2 separate regions of the Homo sapiens genome follow, and region 2 is linked to region 1. Evidence: fine-mapped expression QTL. Tissue or cell type: whole blood. Region 1 holds a variant in brackets; the other region holds the start of a gene. All regions are shown on one strand. Distances are between the middles of the regions.

Region 1 (8,000 bases):
CCCAGGCAGCGCCAGCTGGACCAAGCCAGGAACCACGAGCCAGCGGCCTGAGCACTCACCGGTCTCCACATCCTGCACGTAGAAGTGCAGGTCATCAGTGATCTCAGTCACAAACACGGGCTTGTAGCTAGCAGATCGCTCCTTCTCCTCCAGCACTGGCATCACCTCCTCCACGGGCTGCTCCTCATAGTGGGCCCAGACCTGCATGTTCAGTCGGCAGAGGTGAGAAGAGGGCGAGGAAGTGAAGTCATAAAAGACACTGGGAGGCCAGGCGTGGTGGCTCATGCCTGTAATCCCAGCACTTTGGGAGGCCGAGGCGGGTGGATCACGAGGTTAGGAGTTCAAGACCAGACTGGCCAATATGGTGAAACTCTATCTCTACTAAAAATACAAAAAATTAGCTGGGTGCGGTGGTGGGCGCCTGTAATCCCAGCTACTTGGGAGGCTGAGGCAGGAGAATCGCTTGAACCTGGGAGGCACGGGTTGCGGTGAGCCAAGATCATGCCACTGCACTCCAGCCTGGGCGACAGTGCAAGACTCCGTCTCAAAAAAGAAGAAAAAAAAAAGACACTGGGAAAGGGGTTTTGGGCAAATGGGATCGGCCCTGGGCGAGTGACTGTGGGGCACTCGATTCACACCAGGCTGAGCCCCTGAAGCCCTCTATCTCGGAGGGGAAAGGTGAGTTCTCTAAAGTCCTGATCTAGCAGTTCTCAAATTCTGGCAGGCATCAGAACCAACAAGGGAATTTATTAAAAATGCAGGCCCCAGATCCTACCCCAGGCCTACCAAATTACAATCTGTTCTGAGCATCCCAGAGAGTAAAAAAGAGCAAAACCAGATCCCAGGCTATCTCATGCACGTCCGAGTGTGAGAGCCCTGCTTTCATGAACTCTTTGGCTCTGGGCTCCTCACACCCGCACCTCTCTTGCTCCAGCTCCCCATCTCCCTTCCCCGTGGCACTCTGCAGGGCACTCTGAATTCTGCAGGACCTCCTGCTGTCACAGGGCTCCTGGTGCTCCTGAAGCAGTCCAAGCCACAGCCCTAGGCTGGGGAAGAGCTCACCAAGAATGCTTCTGCTCAGCAACTTTCCCTTTCTCCATCCTCCTCACCTCCAGCAGGTTGCTCTGACCTCAGCCCAGAAGCTGGGCCATGCGCTCTCCACCCTTCCCTCTCTCCCTTCCTTCCCCAAAGCCCTGTGCTGTCAGGGCTGCAGTGGCTCAGAAGCTGATTTGACGCGACAGCGTGTCAAGTCCAATCCTGCAGCCAGGAGATTATCCAAATGGTGAGGTCTGTCAGAGCAGGGGAGGGAGGTGGCTTTCCAGCTGAGCAGCAGGAAGGGTGGGTGGGAGAGTGCAGAGAATGGATCACGCGTGGGGTCCCACAGACGCACACAGGAATAAGGATGATTAAAAGTATTTGCCCAAAACTTCTGTGCTTATTAGGTGCCAGGTACCATTCTAAACATTCTCCAAATATTAATTCATTTAGTCCTTACAACAACCCTTTGAGTAGGTCTTGGTATTATCCCTGTTTTACAAATGGGAAAACTGAGGTACACAGGCTTGCAGCTAGAAGTAGTGAAATCAGAATTCAAACATAGGCAGCCTGGCACTACAGCTCTTCCAGGGGCACTTTGGCATTGACTAGGTATCCCTGAGAAAACACCACCAACCAGGAGGAAAAAGCTGTTTGTTGGTGGGGGGTGGGGAGGGAGATGAGGACTTATGTCCCTGTTGTTTTTGAACTTGCCATTTGACATTGGTCAAACTTTTCTGGGTCCCCTTTCTTCTCTCTCAGCTGAAATGCAGATTCCTCAGGAGCTTCAGGACACAGCAGAAAGGCAGGAATGCTGGAATTCTGGAACCACCTTGGGTCAACCCAGACCCCACACTTCTGCCTTTAACGCGGCCTGAGCGTGTGTTCTTCCACTAGAAGGAGCGGCTATGGGGGAATGACTGAGACATCTCCCAGGCCCAAGCTTTCCACCATCCTACATCAAGCAGTGCCTTCTATGGCTGGGCTTGTGGGCCCCTGGTATGGGGTCTGGCCTCCTACCCAAATAGTTCCTGACCCCTTCTCACCTTCCAGGCTCCTGATACCCTAACACCTGTCCCCATCACCAGAGACCTCTGTACACACTGCTGCTTCTAGTCCCCTAAGCCCTGGCTGGCCAGAGGGGAGGAGGCAGGCAGCAGGACTTTAACCCACAGCTTTGCCTCTAGTCAGGACAGAGGCCCTAATCCCTCAAGGGCCTTCCTGCCCATGTGGGGAAGTGGGTCTCTAGCTTGTGGGCTTCCCTGTGAAAGGGCCAGGAGAGAGCCATAAATGCTTCTGATGCCAAGCCTATGTCCTGATGGGCCTGAGGCTTTTGCCCTGGGCCTCCAGAGCTGGAAGTTCCCTGGTATCTACTTAGCCAGTCACTCCTATTGACACCTGGGCTCCCAGCCCTTCTGGGACGCTTGCAGCTCTGAGGATCAGTGGGACTCACTCGGCCTCAGAGACGAGACTGTCAGCACTACCTTAAGTGAACTGGGATGGAGCCCTCCTGACCCAGGAGTCTGCTCCCTCATTCCTACCAGCAGGCACCCCTGCAGTCCTGAATCCCTCAGCACGTCCTCTGCTCTGCATCCCATGCAGGTGCTCTTCCCTCTTCCTGCCAGCTCCCTCCTTTCCCGGCACTGAGCTTGTTAACAGAGACCGGCATTCTGTGCTGGTTCCTGAGTGGGCCATGGCCCCTGAGCCTGCAAGCTGTTGAGGGCTCCCATCCTAGCCCCACCCTGCTCCTTTGGCTTGGGGGAAGGCGGCCCCTCAGCAGTGTTGATGAATTCGGAACACACAGGATGAAAGCAGAAACTGCTAAAGACTCCTCAAGTAAAAGTGCCTTGGGTGACAGCATCAGGTGTCCTCCTTGGGGAGAGTGGGGTGGAGCTTCTTTCCCAGCAGGCTCAGGTGGGCAGCAGGCGTGAGGTCACGGAAGATGCAAACCAAAGCCTTGGGGATGGCCCTCAGCCCCCAGCACTAGGGCCAGTCCTGTAACAAGGTGCCACAGCTCACTTCGTGGTGGGTGGGGTGGTGCACACTGCCACCTGAATTGAGAAGACAGCAGAAGCAAGGTGTCTCCATACACAAAGTGGCTGGCACTTGAGGTTGCCAAGAAGCATACAGAGGGTAGGAGAGAGACAGCTGTCTCCTCAGATAAAGGAACTGTGTTTCTAGGAGAGGCTGACCTTTGGCCCTTCAGGCAGTGCAGCCATGACGGTTCCCTCTTTCCCTGTGGGGATGGAGGTGACCAGCTGTTCCTTGGGACTTGCAGCCACATGGGCAAGCTGGTCCATGCAGGCTGGCCAGGTGGCACCTTGGTGGGAAGGAGTCAGTCAGCTGGGACAGGCGTGGTTGCCCTTGTCCCCATCCTTAGAACAAGGGTGCATTTGGCTCAGGCTGCCCTTCTGCAGAGCTGGGGTGCATGGAGGAGACACACTCACTGGCAAGACACCTGCCAGACCCAGCCACTTTCCACAGCCATCCTCAGCCCCTCACAGCTCAGATTTCCCATAAGAAGCTGGTTTCTGGGAATCCCCATTGTAGATGCTCCTCTTCCTGGACCTCTGGGGAGATGACAAGGAAAACTCCAGAAG[A/G]AACAGTAGTTGTACACCCAGACACAGAAAATTATTGCTGTATGGCTCTACCCCAGCCTCTTGAAAGATGGAGGAGCTGGGGAAGAGCCTCTATGGCCAAAGAGCTGGGCAGAGAACAGGGGTCCTGAGCTTGACCTAAGCAGCAGGGCCCAGGAATGCTGGGAGAGCCAACCACAGGACAGTCTGCCCTTCTCATGGACCACCTCTAAGCATGTGGAGAGGCTGTTACTAAGCCTGCTATTGTGGAGAGGCTGTCCCAGCTGACTGATGCCAGGGTTTGCGGTCAGGTGGGGGAAGTGTCTCTCCAGGCCAAGGCCAGGGTGGAGCTCTGCCCCTGGTGGGGCACTGCTGGTACCCCCGGTGGCCCCAGCTACAGAGCAAGACTGGGAAGGGTGGATGGAGGCCCCTCCTGCCTGTTCATCTGCTCCAGGCTGCTCTGCCATGCAAGTTCCTGTCTTGCTCGGGTCCCCTCTACACTTTGGGGCTCCTTGTGTTCTGTTGCTGCGGCCACCCTGAGGGAAAGAGCCCATCAAGCCAGGCACAGACCAGGCAGGTCAGGAATGGAGGCTGTCTCTCCTCTCCTCTCCCTGCCCTGGCTCTCTCTCTTCCCTGCATTTCCTCCTCAGGGAGTCCCAGGTCCTTCTCTTGGCAGGTGATGAGGACTGTGGACAGAGAATCCACTGGCTGGAGTCTTTCCTTTCTAAATCCTGTTTAACATTGCTGCTTGCAAGGCTCCAGGGGTGGGGCTGGCGAGGGGCCAAGGTGGCGGAGGCCTTTAGGCCTGCAGCAGGGAAGCCAAGCTCAATAAAAGCCAATCGATGGCCAATCCAGCCCTGTGCAGGGCCCTGCTGAGCACGTGTGTGAGATGGGGTTAAGGAGGGGGGACAGGCATCTGCCATCTGTGGTTCCCTCCTTGGTCCTCAGGTCTGCCCAGGGCTGCTGAGGAGGAAGTGGGGGTTACCTCCTGCCAAGGAAGTGGAGAGCCCTATCGGCCTCTTCACTGAGGAGGCATCCACAGGGCACAGGGAGGAATTACACTCAGCAGGGAGGTAGTTAAGCCTTCGTAGCTGGGAAACCAGCATTCTCAGATTCCCCCAGACAGACACACTCACGAATGCATGCACACACAATCACACTCCCTAAAGCCTTCTGCACTTCCTGGTCTCACAGAATCCCTCAGCATTACCTTTCCTTGGTTAGCTACAGGCACAAACATTCCTGCATCCTGATGCTAACAGGATCTTGTAACCACTGTCTCTTGACAGGTAAGGCAGCCCTTGTGGGATCAAGTGGGACAAGGCTGGGTACACCCCAGATACTCAGGTTACTGTCCCCCAGCCGGCCACCAGATGCTCTTATCAGGGTTCAGCCAACTCTTAGAGCTGCTACAAAGCTCTGCTAGTGCTGCTCCTGGGAAACAGCCCCTCCAGGAGGAAGAAAGCCAGCCTCGGTTCCTCAGGATCCTTGACGAGCAGACTGGGATTTGCAGGAGAGGGACCCAGGAGGCGGCAGGCCCTAGCACTGAGAGTTGTGCACTGCATTTTAATTGGACTGGAATAAAAACACGCAGGCCGTGTAAGTAATTAATCACTGGTAATTACTCCTCAGCGTCATCAAGTGGCACCAGCAAAATGGTGACTTGGGCTCTTTCAGACAAACCCACTGTGCAGTAAATAACGATGCTGAGTTCAGCACAGCCCCTGGCAGGGAACCCACCCTTCCATCTCAGGCCAGAGTCCCCTCCCTGTGCTCCCCTGGGTTCCTCTAGAGTCTCTACTCTTAGAGGGTAGAGGATCGCCCAGCTCTGAAAAGGTGGCTTCCAGGTTCACTGCTGAAAAGCCAGGAAGCAGGGCAAGGACGAAGATGCTTTTGGCCTCTGGGCGTTAGACTCTGGGGCTTGCCGCTCTACCCCCAGCTGCTAACTCTTCTGTGAAAGTGCCAACCTTTAAACAGGAGGCCCCAGCGCTGCCCCTCCCCCCCTCTCCCTGCAGCAGGCAGAGGACATGGGGGTGGCAGTCTTAAGTTCAGCTGTCACAAGCAGGAAATCCAGGAAGAAGCCGTGTGACTCCTTTCCTATAGGAGCTGAGGCTGCCTGCTTCCCCCTCATTCTGGGAGGAGGAGGCTTGATGTGAGCAGGAGGTGGGAATCTCCTCTGAGGTCTGATGGTGGCTGCCTCCTGCAGGGCACTGACCGTCCCTTTCATCTGTGCTAGCTTTGTGGTCCACCTTTCCCTGGAGTCTTTCCACCTCCACTCTCCTCTACCACCAAGGGGCTGGTTGCCTGCCCCAATCCCCAGGGGAAGGGAAGAATAGATAGAGAGAGACCCAGGAGGACAGTCCCAAGGGGACAAGAGATGCCCTGAATGAGGAGGCAGCTGCTTGGGGCTGGTGAAGAATCTGGTGCTTCTGGGGCCTCAAAGCCCCCGACTCTTTTTGGCAGGTGTCCGGGCCTTAGCTCTGGGAAGTGAGTTTTGAGCCAGATGGCTGCCCCATGGGGAAGGAAGCATTTATTCCTGGAACAAATTTATAGCTCAGCACGGCTGTCCCACGAATCCTCCTCAAGCTCAGAGAAGCCCTGACAAATTGGTGGCCAGCTGATTTATCCCCATTATCAGGGCCGGGCTATAAGTCAAAAGCAACAGGCTGGGTGAGCCCGGCTCCCACCTCCAAATCACTGCATTCCTCAATTGTCAATTGGTTTCCAAAAGCCACTTTCCACCCCATCCCCCTTGTCTCTTCAATGCGGTGCCCACAGAGACTGATGGGCTATAAATCTCTTGTCCTAACAGCTAGAGGCCTCTCCTAGGGTTGTTTCCCCACGGGGCAATGTGAAGGAAATTCAGATGTGGGCTTGGGCCGCCCAGTCCTGAGGGCACTGACAGAGAAGGGTCAGGGCTGGGGAGGGAGGGGCGCCCCGGGCATTTTGTCCCATGGCTCCACAGTCACCTAGACAGATTTCTGCTTCAGGACCACCTGAGCAGGCCTGGGATCACTGATGACATTCTGGGCTGGCAGCCCAGGCCCACCTCAGGTCTGCAACAGGCTGTGGCCGAGGACACCTCAGCTGGCAGCCTCTCCTCGCCTGTGTGTGGCCTTGGTGTGGGGTCTGAGACCAACACCTTCCTGGGCTACTCTGTGGGGATGAGAGAACTTCCTCCTGTTCTCTGGAGGCAGCAGCATTAGTGTGTGAGGAGGACGGGAGGGCAGGGAGAGCACAGCTGGGCTGCCACATGTACCTTCTCTTTCTTCTGCTTTGCGGCCTCCTCGGCAGACAGCAGGGACTTGTAGTAGGAGCTGCGTTCGGCGGTGAAGTGGACCTTGGAGAGCGCGTGCTCCACCAGCAGGACGGACAGGTTGGCACCGTCGATGTGCAGCCAGCCGATAAAGTTGCCGGCCTTGTCCATGCTCTCCACCTCCACCTCCACCTGGGACAGAGAGACAGGCGTAAGCCTGTGGGGGCCAGGCCTGAGTGTGCAGGGGCTGTGCCCGTGGGGAGGACAGCAGCGCCGAAGCCTTGGGCTCACAGGCCTTGGCAGCCGCTGCCAACCTCTGGGAACCCCCAGAACCCTTCAATTTCAGCCTCTCACGGGAACAGACACACCCCAAAACTCGACTCTCTTCTCAGAGCCCCTTCCCCTCCTTGCGGCAGAAAGCTACCGGGGCAAACGGGATTCTCCTTAACCTGAGAGAGAGAGAGAGAGCGCAGCTGAAGGTCAGGAGCAAGTGAAGAAGCAGGCAGAGGTCTTGGTGCCTCCCACTCTTCAGCACCCTCCCCAGCTCTGTGCTAGAAGACAGGCAGGTCCTTAGGGAGCGAGGCAACCCCTGGGGAGAGGGAGGCTGCTTTTCCTGGTAGAGCTGAATGAATTCGTGTCTAATGAAGGTAATTAAAGTGGTTGCATGAAAAGCAGGAGAGGAGAGGGGGAGAGGACAGGAGAGGCAGAAAGACGCGGGCAGGAAATGCATCAGCGCAAGGGCAGTGAGTGACAATCCCGCAGAAGGAGTGGCCAGAAGGGTGTGGGCTGTGGCTGAACCCCAGAGCCCTCAAGGAATCTCCACGGGCCTCAAGGCCTCCTCCACTGACTGTCTCATCCCGAGGACCCAGGATAACAGACCTAGCACTGACTGCTTTTCTAAAAGGGCAGCCTCAGGATCGTGGCCCTCGTGGTAGCTGATCTGCTCCCACATCGTGAAGGCCACTGCCCAGGATAAATTCCTTCTTTGATTTTCTCCTGACCTCTTTCTTTCCCTGCTAAAGGGGCCTATAAATGTCTTTGCTGCCAAATGTAAAAACTTGTATTAATTTAAATGCCTTCAAGCTCGATTAAGCAATAAAATGAATGTCTAAATACCTGGGAATTCTCGAGGT
Region 2 (8,000 bases), 45 kb after region 1:
ATGGCTAGTTGTCCCTGATAGGTGTTTGCACACGTGGGTGGAACTAAGACACACACACACACACACAAATGTGTTCATTACCTTGGAAAGAAGGCAGTGACTATTTCCATGTAGACCATTCCTACTTTTTATTATTACTGATTCACCAATTGATATCTTTCCTTCCCTTTGTGGAGGGCAATTTCCATACTACTTTTTTCTTTCTAGTTTCCCAAATTCCTTTTATGTCTTTGCTCCTGTTCTGTTCCTGCCACTGATGGACCTACCCTTAAAAGAGTCCGCAAAGCCTATTTGGTGGCAAAACGATACCCAGCTCACTCCTGGAACACCCTATGAGGCATTATGGACATCTAGTGGCTGCTCAGGATAATGCCTCAGGGATGCATATCAGGTTAGGGAGTGGTCTAGCCTTGGGCTTTACTAAGGAACCCAATTATCCTGGCTGGGTGGGAGAGTCCTGGGTCCTCTAGATGACCATTTCTGTCATTTTCTATTGGCGACCCAAAGTCACTAGGAAGTGCAGACTGGTGCTATTGAAGACTCTTCTTTATCCCAATCCAGCAAAGTATAGTTGCACTGGCATACAAGCCCACATTAGACAGGCATTTGGAAATATCTTCAAGGCCCAGGTTTAAATGCCAATTAGCCATACATTGTTACTTAGAGGAACTGAGGTCAAAAAGGACAGACTCTGATACTAATCAGTCATGTAGCTTTAGGTAAGTCACTGTGCCTCTCTGAGCTTCATCAGTGACATCTGTAAAGTGAGAGGTTAAATCCAGATAATCTCCAAGGTCCACTTTAGTTTAACATTCTGTGATCTATGTGTCTTTTTAGTAGCTGGGAAAACACAGTCCGATTTGCTCTGCTCCAGCACTGTGGATCTCTAGATTAAATGAAGAAAGCATTCTCACTTAACTTTGTGGCCCATTTCCAAGACTTGGCTACAATTCCAAAGGATCAACCTTCACAGAGCTACATATCTGAGATGGGACAGGAATCATGGACTAAGAGAGCGGTAAGAAACTTTCTAATCCATTTCCTTGATTTTATAAATGGAAAAACTGATGTTTAGAGCTATTTTAAGATTTGTCACATGTCTAAAGGGGACTAGAACTCAGGTATCCCAATCTTAGCACAGGGCTCATTCTATAATACCAGGCTGCTGACACAGGCCTTCCCCAATCACTGCTGGCTTTTTTAGCTCTCTCTGGCGTTATCACAGCAGTCTCCCTGTGTGAAACTGCAAGTGAAAACAATCTGAATCCACTGTCTCTTCCTCTTAGGGTGTAAGTAGCCTTCTTTCCTTCTTATTCTTTGGTGGCACCATTCCAAATCCAAGAAGCAGTCAGAGCCACGGGCTGTGAGGAGCAAGATGCCATAGCTAGATGGTACTTGGGTTACCAAAATGAGAGGCTGCAATCCCACTTTCAGCTCAGAAGGGCTGTGTGCAACGACGGCCCCACAGCCTCCTCTGTAGTCCAGTTAGTAGGTTCAGTGGTGCTTTCCTGGCCCAGCTGGCTTACAGGGGGCAAAGCAGCCTGATGTAGAGCTCGACAGAGCTTGGGCATAGTCACCTTCATGGATGGCAGTCACAAATACTTACTGAGAGACAACCTCATTACTAAGTACTGGTCTGACCCAACTCGGCCCCCACTTTCATCTACCTTTATAGTGCGGGGCAGCAGCTTTCATTTGTGGAGCCTGGAGCTGAACAGACAGGGTTTGAGTTTGCCTACAGTAGCAGAGGACCAGCCCAGGCAGAGACCCTGTTGCCTGAGGAGGGAAGGATAGTCATACTTAATCGCTGCCATCCAGACCCTGGCCAGGGGTCTCCTCAGGCAATAGATGACTCTACTAGGTCGGTGCCAGCTATAAAGGAGCAGAACCTCTCACCAGAAAGTCTGAGTGCCCAGATGGAACTAAACCCCAGTATCAGGGTTTGACTTACCTCCATGTCTCCCTCATTCTTTTTCTTGATGAGAGTTCATTTTCTCAGCCCGTCTCCTACCCTTCATCTTACTTCTCTGACACATCCTTCACTGAACTTTCCTACAGTCTCTCTCTCCTCCCCCCTCCACTTGCCTCCACCATTTACTCTATGAAGAGTAGACACAGCGGGCATTCCTGTTAGTGATGAAAACATCGGACTCAGGGTTTGAAGGCTGGATGGAAAGGCTGGCTCTGTTACTTTCTAGTGTGTGACCTTGGGCAAGTTATTTGCCTGCCTAAGCTAAGTGCCTTCATCTGTGAAATGGAGACAAGTGTGGCAATTACTTTCACTGGGTAAATGAAGATTAAACAAGAACAGATATAAGTTCTTGGTATGGTGGATAGTACATAGTAGATAAGCATCCCAGTAAATGACTATTGAAGTGGATGAATGAAACCTGAGTTCTCATCCCACTAGGAGAATACTTTGGGGAATCACTTCCACACCCAAGTTTCTTGACATCTGAGACGTGCTGAGGCTCAAATCCACTATCACTTACTAGTGACCCTAGGCAACGTTTGACTCATATAAAATGAATAATAGGGTTGCAGTGGAATACAGAGTAAGGGTTCAATAAACAGAAACTAACAAGGTTATTATTTGACAGCAAATGATAACAGAAAGGTCTTGGCAAAGAATGGGGACTCCAACTTGCCTACAAAGGAACCGTTTCCAGGACTTCAAGTATTCCATGGCGTATTTAAAGAGGTTCAGGTTACTGGGCAAAAGACAATACTCAGAAATAGGTGTGGTAGAAACCAGAGAGCTGAGAAATCTGGGACCTCCTCGTTCTTAAGCAACAGCCCACGCGCAGGTGATGAGGGTTTATCAAGCGAGCCTGCCAGAAATCACACGGGGAGAGGGGTGGGTTGAGGAGTCTGGAGGCAGCTCTTGAAGGGAAGGGATATTAAACCATGCTATATTCTACTGGACCGGCTTCCCAGGGCTCAGCTAGATTGCCTCACCCACAGTCGGCAGAGAAAGGGGCAGTCTTTTTTCAGGGGGGTGGGAAAAAGCTGACCTAGTCCCCTTCTCCTACACTAGTCTGTCAAATGCCTTAGGGTCTCCTACCAGAAATAGGAGCAAGAATTCCACCCCCACTCCCAATCGCTACCCCTGGCTGCTACGCAGTTCTTCTCAGAGTCCTAGCCAAGGAAGGGCTGGCGAGCTCACAGGGCAGGGGGCTCAGCCGCCCGCCTCCCTTCCCCCAGTTCTCTGGGGGCAGCGGGGAGCAAGGGGCGACTCCGGCCAGCGAAGACTGAGAAGCCGCGGCTGCAGCTCCATGAATGAACGGGCTGTGTCGTGGGCTCCGGGAGTTCACCTCAATCCTTCCTGCCGGCCTCTGTGCTGTCCCAGGTTGCCATTCCCCAGCTCATCACACTTGGTCATTCCTGCCACTGTTTCCCGCCCCCGCAACCCTCATTAAGGAAACCCTCATTTAAAGCCCCAGTGAGAGCACAGGAGGGGTGAGGCAAAGCGAAGGAGGGGCTGGCGGCAGTGCAGCAGCGAAGCCCGGGCTCTCGGTCCTGGGAGCCTCGTGGCCCCGGCCGCCGTCCCCCGAGTCCCCACCACGCAGTTCCGAACTCCGAACGCGAGTCCGCGCCCCGTCAGCAGTCAGCGGGGGTGAGGATGACGCGGGCCGGGCGAGAGGCAGGCCAAATGCAGCAGCCCCGCCGCGGGCCGCCGGGCCCCTGAGCCCCGCTCTTCAGAGCCAGGGGGCCCCGGGTGCGGGCCGGAGGGCGGGGGCCGGCGCGGGCTCTCCCGCCGCAGCCCCGCGCCGCTCCAGCCTATCAGCGGCCACCCAACTGCTCCCTCCGACCGGCCCAAAATAGCTGCGAACGCCTGCGACTTGCGCGCGGCCCCTCACTTGACGCTCACTCCGGCTCGCTCGCCCGCTCGCCCTGGCCCCGCTCCGCTCGTCTAGAGGGGGCGGGGAGGAAGCGGCCCGGGGAGGGGGGAGGGGGGAGGGGGAGAGAGGAAGAGAGGAGGAAGGAAGGAGGAAAGAGGAAGACGGGCGGCCGGAGGCGCGGGGCTGCGCGGCGCCGGCCGGCGCGGCGCTGGAAGGCGCCGGCGTTAACCCCGCGAGGCAGGCGACGGAGGGGGAGCGGCGCTAATACATAAGAGCACTGCATCACGCTAATCTTCTCCCAGAACAGTATGCGTCAGCAGTACATTCACGTTCTGACTGAAGGACAAAAGGATGAGAGAGCAGTCTGCGTGGCTGCCGCCTGCAACACCGCGAGCCCGGCGCGAGGAGGAGACGGTGGGCGCCGCGCGCAGGGGCCCCGCTGCTGCTGCTGCCGCCGCTAGCCAGCGGGGACTATGTTCCTGGGCTCCGGAGCGTTTCCCGCAGCCGCGACCCCCGCTGCTCACGCCGCTGCAGCAGTCCGCTGGCGGCGCGGCCACTGAGGGCGCCGGGAGCCGAAGCCGCGAACTCGCTCCCTCCGCACAAAGCCGGAGCCGGCGGCGCGCCGGGGGCCGGGCAGCGGCGGGCGGCGACGGGCGGTTGCGCGCCGCCGGGGGCTGCGGCCGCCGCCGCCGCCGGACCCGCGCCCGCCCCCGGACTCTCTGAAGGGGCCTGCGGTGCGGGCGCGACCGCGGGCGCCGCGCGCTCCTCCGGCCGGCGGACCGGGTCCGAGCGCAGCCGCCACGCCGCTGGTCCTCGGGGGCCGGACGGAGCGCCGCCCCGCGTGCCGGCAGCCGGCGGACTGGAGAACTGACCCCCCGTTTTTGTCTCTTCCACCCTCCGAGAAGAGGCGAGGAGAAAGGGGGTGTGTGTCTGGGGAGGGCGAAGGCGCCGCGAACACCTCCTCTTAACTCTCGCCGCTCCGCGAGCTCACGACCGCAATCAGCTGCCGCCGGCCCGGAGCGGCCGACGCCGGGAGAGGGAGCGCAGCATCCAGCGAGTGCGGCCTGGGCGGCTTCGGGGCGCCCCCGCACTCCCTCCGGCGGCGGCCCGCAGAGCGGGCCGGGGCCGCCGGAGCGCACTTTGGCGATGAAGCGCCTTCCCCCGCGGCTGGAGCGAGCCGGTGCCAGGGTCCAAGGACAAAGCCGGGAAGCGCTGGTGGCGCCGCTCCTTGGGCGGAGGGGGGGGCATGCACCTGCATAGCCCGCCGGGCCTTGGCTCTCCCAGGCGCGCCTCAACTCCGCGGCTTCGCCGGCTCCGGCTCCGGATTTACTAGAGGCCATTTTGTCTCCCCCACCCCTTCCCTCCCCTCCCCTCCCCTCCCCTCTGCCCTCCCCGCCCCCACCACTTCCCCCTTTTGTTAATTAAAACTAAGAAGTCGGAATGGGAACGAGGTGCCCAGCTCCCGTGGAGAAAGCTTAAGGACACCACGCCAGTGCTTTCCTGCCTTCCTTCCGAGGTAGGTGACGGCGAACTGGGTGGGGACGGTTGCAGTGTGGGAGAGTCGTAGCTTTCGGAGGGCTTGCCTTGAGGGTGGGTTGGGAGACCAGGGGCCGCTCGAGTTTGGCAGGATTTTTTTCGGCCGATCCGCTCCGTCTCTCTAATCGCCCCCTCCCCACCTCCTTCTCCAGATGGAAAGAGGAGCTCCTAGCTCACTTAAGCCGGGGTAGGGCTGGTTCTCCTTTCCGAGCCAAAATCCCAGGCGATGGTGAATTATGAACGTGCCACACCATGAAGCTCTTGTGGCAGGTAACTGTGCACCACCACACCTGGAATGCCATCCTGCTCCCGTTCGTCTACCTCACGGCGCAAGTGTGGATTCTGTGTGCAGCCATCGCTGCTGCCGCCTCAGCCGGGCCCCAGAACTGCCCCTCCGTCTGCTCGTGCAGTAACCAGTTCAGCAAGGTGGTGTGCACGCGCCGGGGCCTCTCCGAGGTCCCGCAGGGTATTCCCTCGAACACCCGGTACCTCAACCTCATGGAGAACAACATCCAGATGATCCAGGCCGACACCTTCCGCCACCTCCACCACCTGGAGGTCCTGCAGTTGGGCAGGAACTCCATCCGGCAGATTGAGGTGGGGGCCTTCAACGGCCTGGCCAGCCTCAACACCCTGGAGCTGTTCGACAACTGGCTGACAGTCATCCCTAGCGGGGCCTTTGAATACCTGTCCAAGCTGCGGGAGCTCTGGCTTCGCAACAACCCCATCGAAAGCATCCCCTCTTACGCCTTCAACCGGGTGCCCTCCCTCATGCGCCTGGACTTGGGGGAGCTCAAGAAGCTGGAGTATATCTCTGAGGGAGCTTTTGAGGGGCTGTTCAACCTCAAGTATCTGAACTTGGGCATGTGCAACATTAAAGACATGCCCAATCTCACCCCCCTGGTGGGGCTGGAGGAGCTGGAGATGTCAGGGAACCACTTCCCTGAGATCAGGCCTGGCTCCTTCCATGGCCTGAGCTCCCTCAAGAAGCTCTGGGTCATGAACTCACAGGTCAGCCTGATTGAGCGGAATGCTTTTGACGGGCTGGCTTCACTTGTGGAACTCAACTTGGCCCACAATAACCTCTCTTCTTTGCCCCATGACCTCTTTACCCCGCTGAGGTACCTGGTGGAGTTGCATCTACACCACAACCCTTGGAACTGTGATTGTGACATTCTGTGGCTAGCCTGGTGGCTTCGAGAGTATATACCCACCAATTCCACCTGCTGTGGCCGCTGTCATGCTCCCATGCACATGCGAGGCCGCTACCTCGTGGAGGTGGACCAGGCCTCCTTCCAGTGCTCTGCCCCCTTCATCATGGACGCACCTCGAGACCTCAACATTTCTGAGGGTCGGATGGCAGAACTTAAGTGTCGGACTCCCCCTATGTCCTCCGTGAAGTGGTTGCTGCCCAATGGGACAGTGCTCAGCCACGCCTCCCGCCACCCAAGGATCTCTGTCCTCAACGACGGCACCTTGAACTTTTCCCACGTGCTGCTTTCAGACACTGGGGTGTACACATGCATGGTGACCAATGTTGCAGGCAACTCCAACGCCTCGGCCTACCTCAATGTGAGCACGGCTGAGCTTAACACCTCCAACTACAGCTTCTTCACCACAGTAACAGTGGAGACCACGGAGATCTCGCCTGAGGACACAACGCGAAAGTACAAGCCTGTTCCTACCACGTCCACTGGTTACCAGCCGGCATATACCACCTCTACCACGGTGCTCATTCAGACTACCCGTGTGCCCAAGCAGGTGGCAGTACCCGCGACAGACACCACTGACAAGATGCAGACCAGCCTGGATGAAGTCATGAAGACCACCAAGATCATCATTGGCTGCTTTGTGGCAGTGACTCTGCTAGCTGCCGCCATGTTGATTGTCTTCTATAAACTTCGTAAGCGGCACCAGCAGCGGAGTACAGTCACAGCCGCCCGGACTGTTGAGATAATCCAGGTGGACGAAGACATCCCAGCAGCAACATCCGCAGCAGCAACAGCAGCTCCGTCCGGTGTATCAGGTGAGGGGGCAGTAGTGCTGCCCACAATTCATGACCATATTAACTACAACACCTACAAACCAGCACATGGGGCCCACTGGACAGAAAACAGCCTGGGGAACTCTCTGCACCCCACAGTCACCACTATCTCTGAACCTTATATAATTCAGACCCATACCAAGGACAAGGTACAGGAAACTCAAATATGACTCCCCTCCCCCAAAAAACTTATAAAATGCAATAGAATGCACACAAAGACAGCAACTTTTGTACAGAGTGGGGAGAGACTTTTTCTTGTATATGCTTATATATTAAGTCTATGGGCTGGTTAAAAAAAACAGATTATATTAAAATTTAAAGACAAAAAGTCAAAACAAAAATATTTTCTAACTTGTAAGTTCTATTTAAAGGGGGTGGGGGGGAATCTTGGGAACGTTGTGGGGTACAAGCCACAAGTTAACTTGCTATGCTGCCAGAAGGGATTTCTGGTATAAGGTTGAAATTGCTGAGATAAAATAAACTAAAACAACAAACATCCTTAAAGAGGTAGGGTGTGGGCTGCTGAGGGGGCAAGAGGGATAGACTGAATCTGTCATTTTTTAGAAGATGCTTCATAG

Evidence for each region. PIP is the estimated chance that this variant, and not a neighbour inherited with it, causes the effect.
Region 2: it holds the start of LRRC4, and the variant in region 1 is fine-mapped to the expression of LRRC4 in whole blood (INTERVAL, PIP 0.94).

Annotation. Positions count from the first base shown.
Region 1 is chr7:128,073,561-128,081,560 of GRCh38, reverse strand. SND1 (staphylococcal nuclease and tudor domain containing 1) reads right to left here. Exons shown (of 24, transcript NM_014390.4): 17 at 6,871-7,059; 18 at 60-201. Among named protein-coding and RNA genes, the nearest start is that of MIR593, 4.3 kb to the left of the region's middle. RefSeq lists enhancers at 3,953-4,452, 4,453-4,954. The variant A/G (reference allele first, on the strand shown) is at 3,636.
Region 2 is chr7:128,028,271-128,036,270 of GRCh38, reverse strand. LRRC4 (leucine rich repeat containing 4) reads left to right here and starts at 4,834. Exons shown (of 2, transcript NM_022143.5): 1 at 4,834-5,358; 2 at 5,531-8,000. The coding sequence starts at 5,631. The coding sequence ends at 7,592. All of the region lies in intron 16 of SND1 (staphylococcal nuclease and tudor domain containing 1), which reads right to left. RefSeq lists silencers at 3,551-3,620, 4,271-4,390.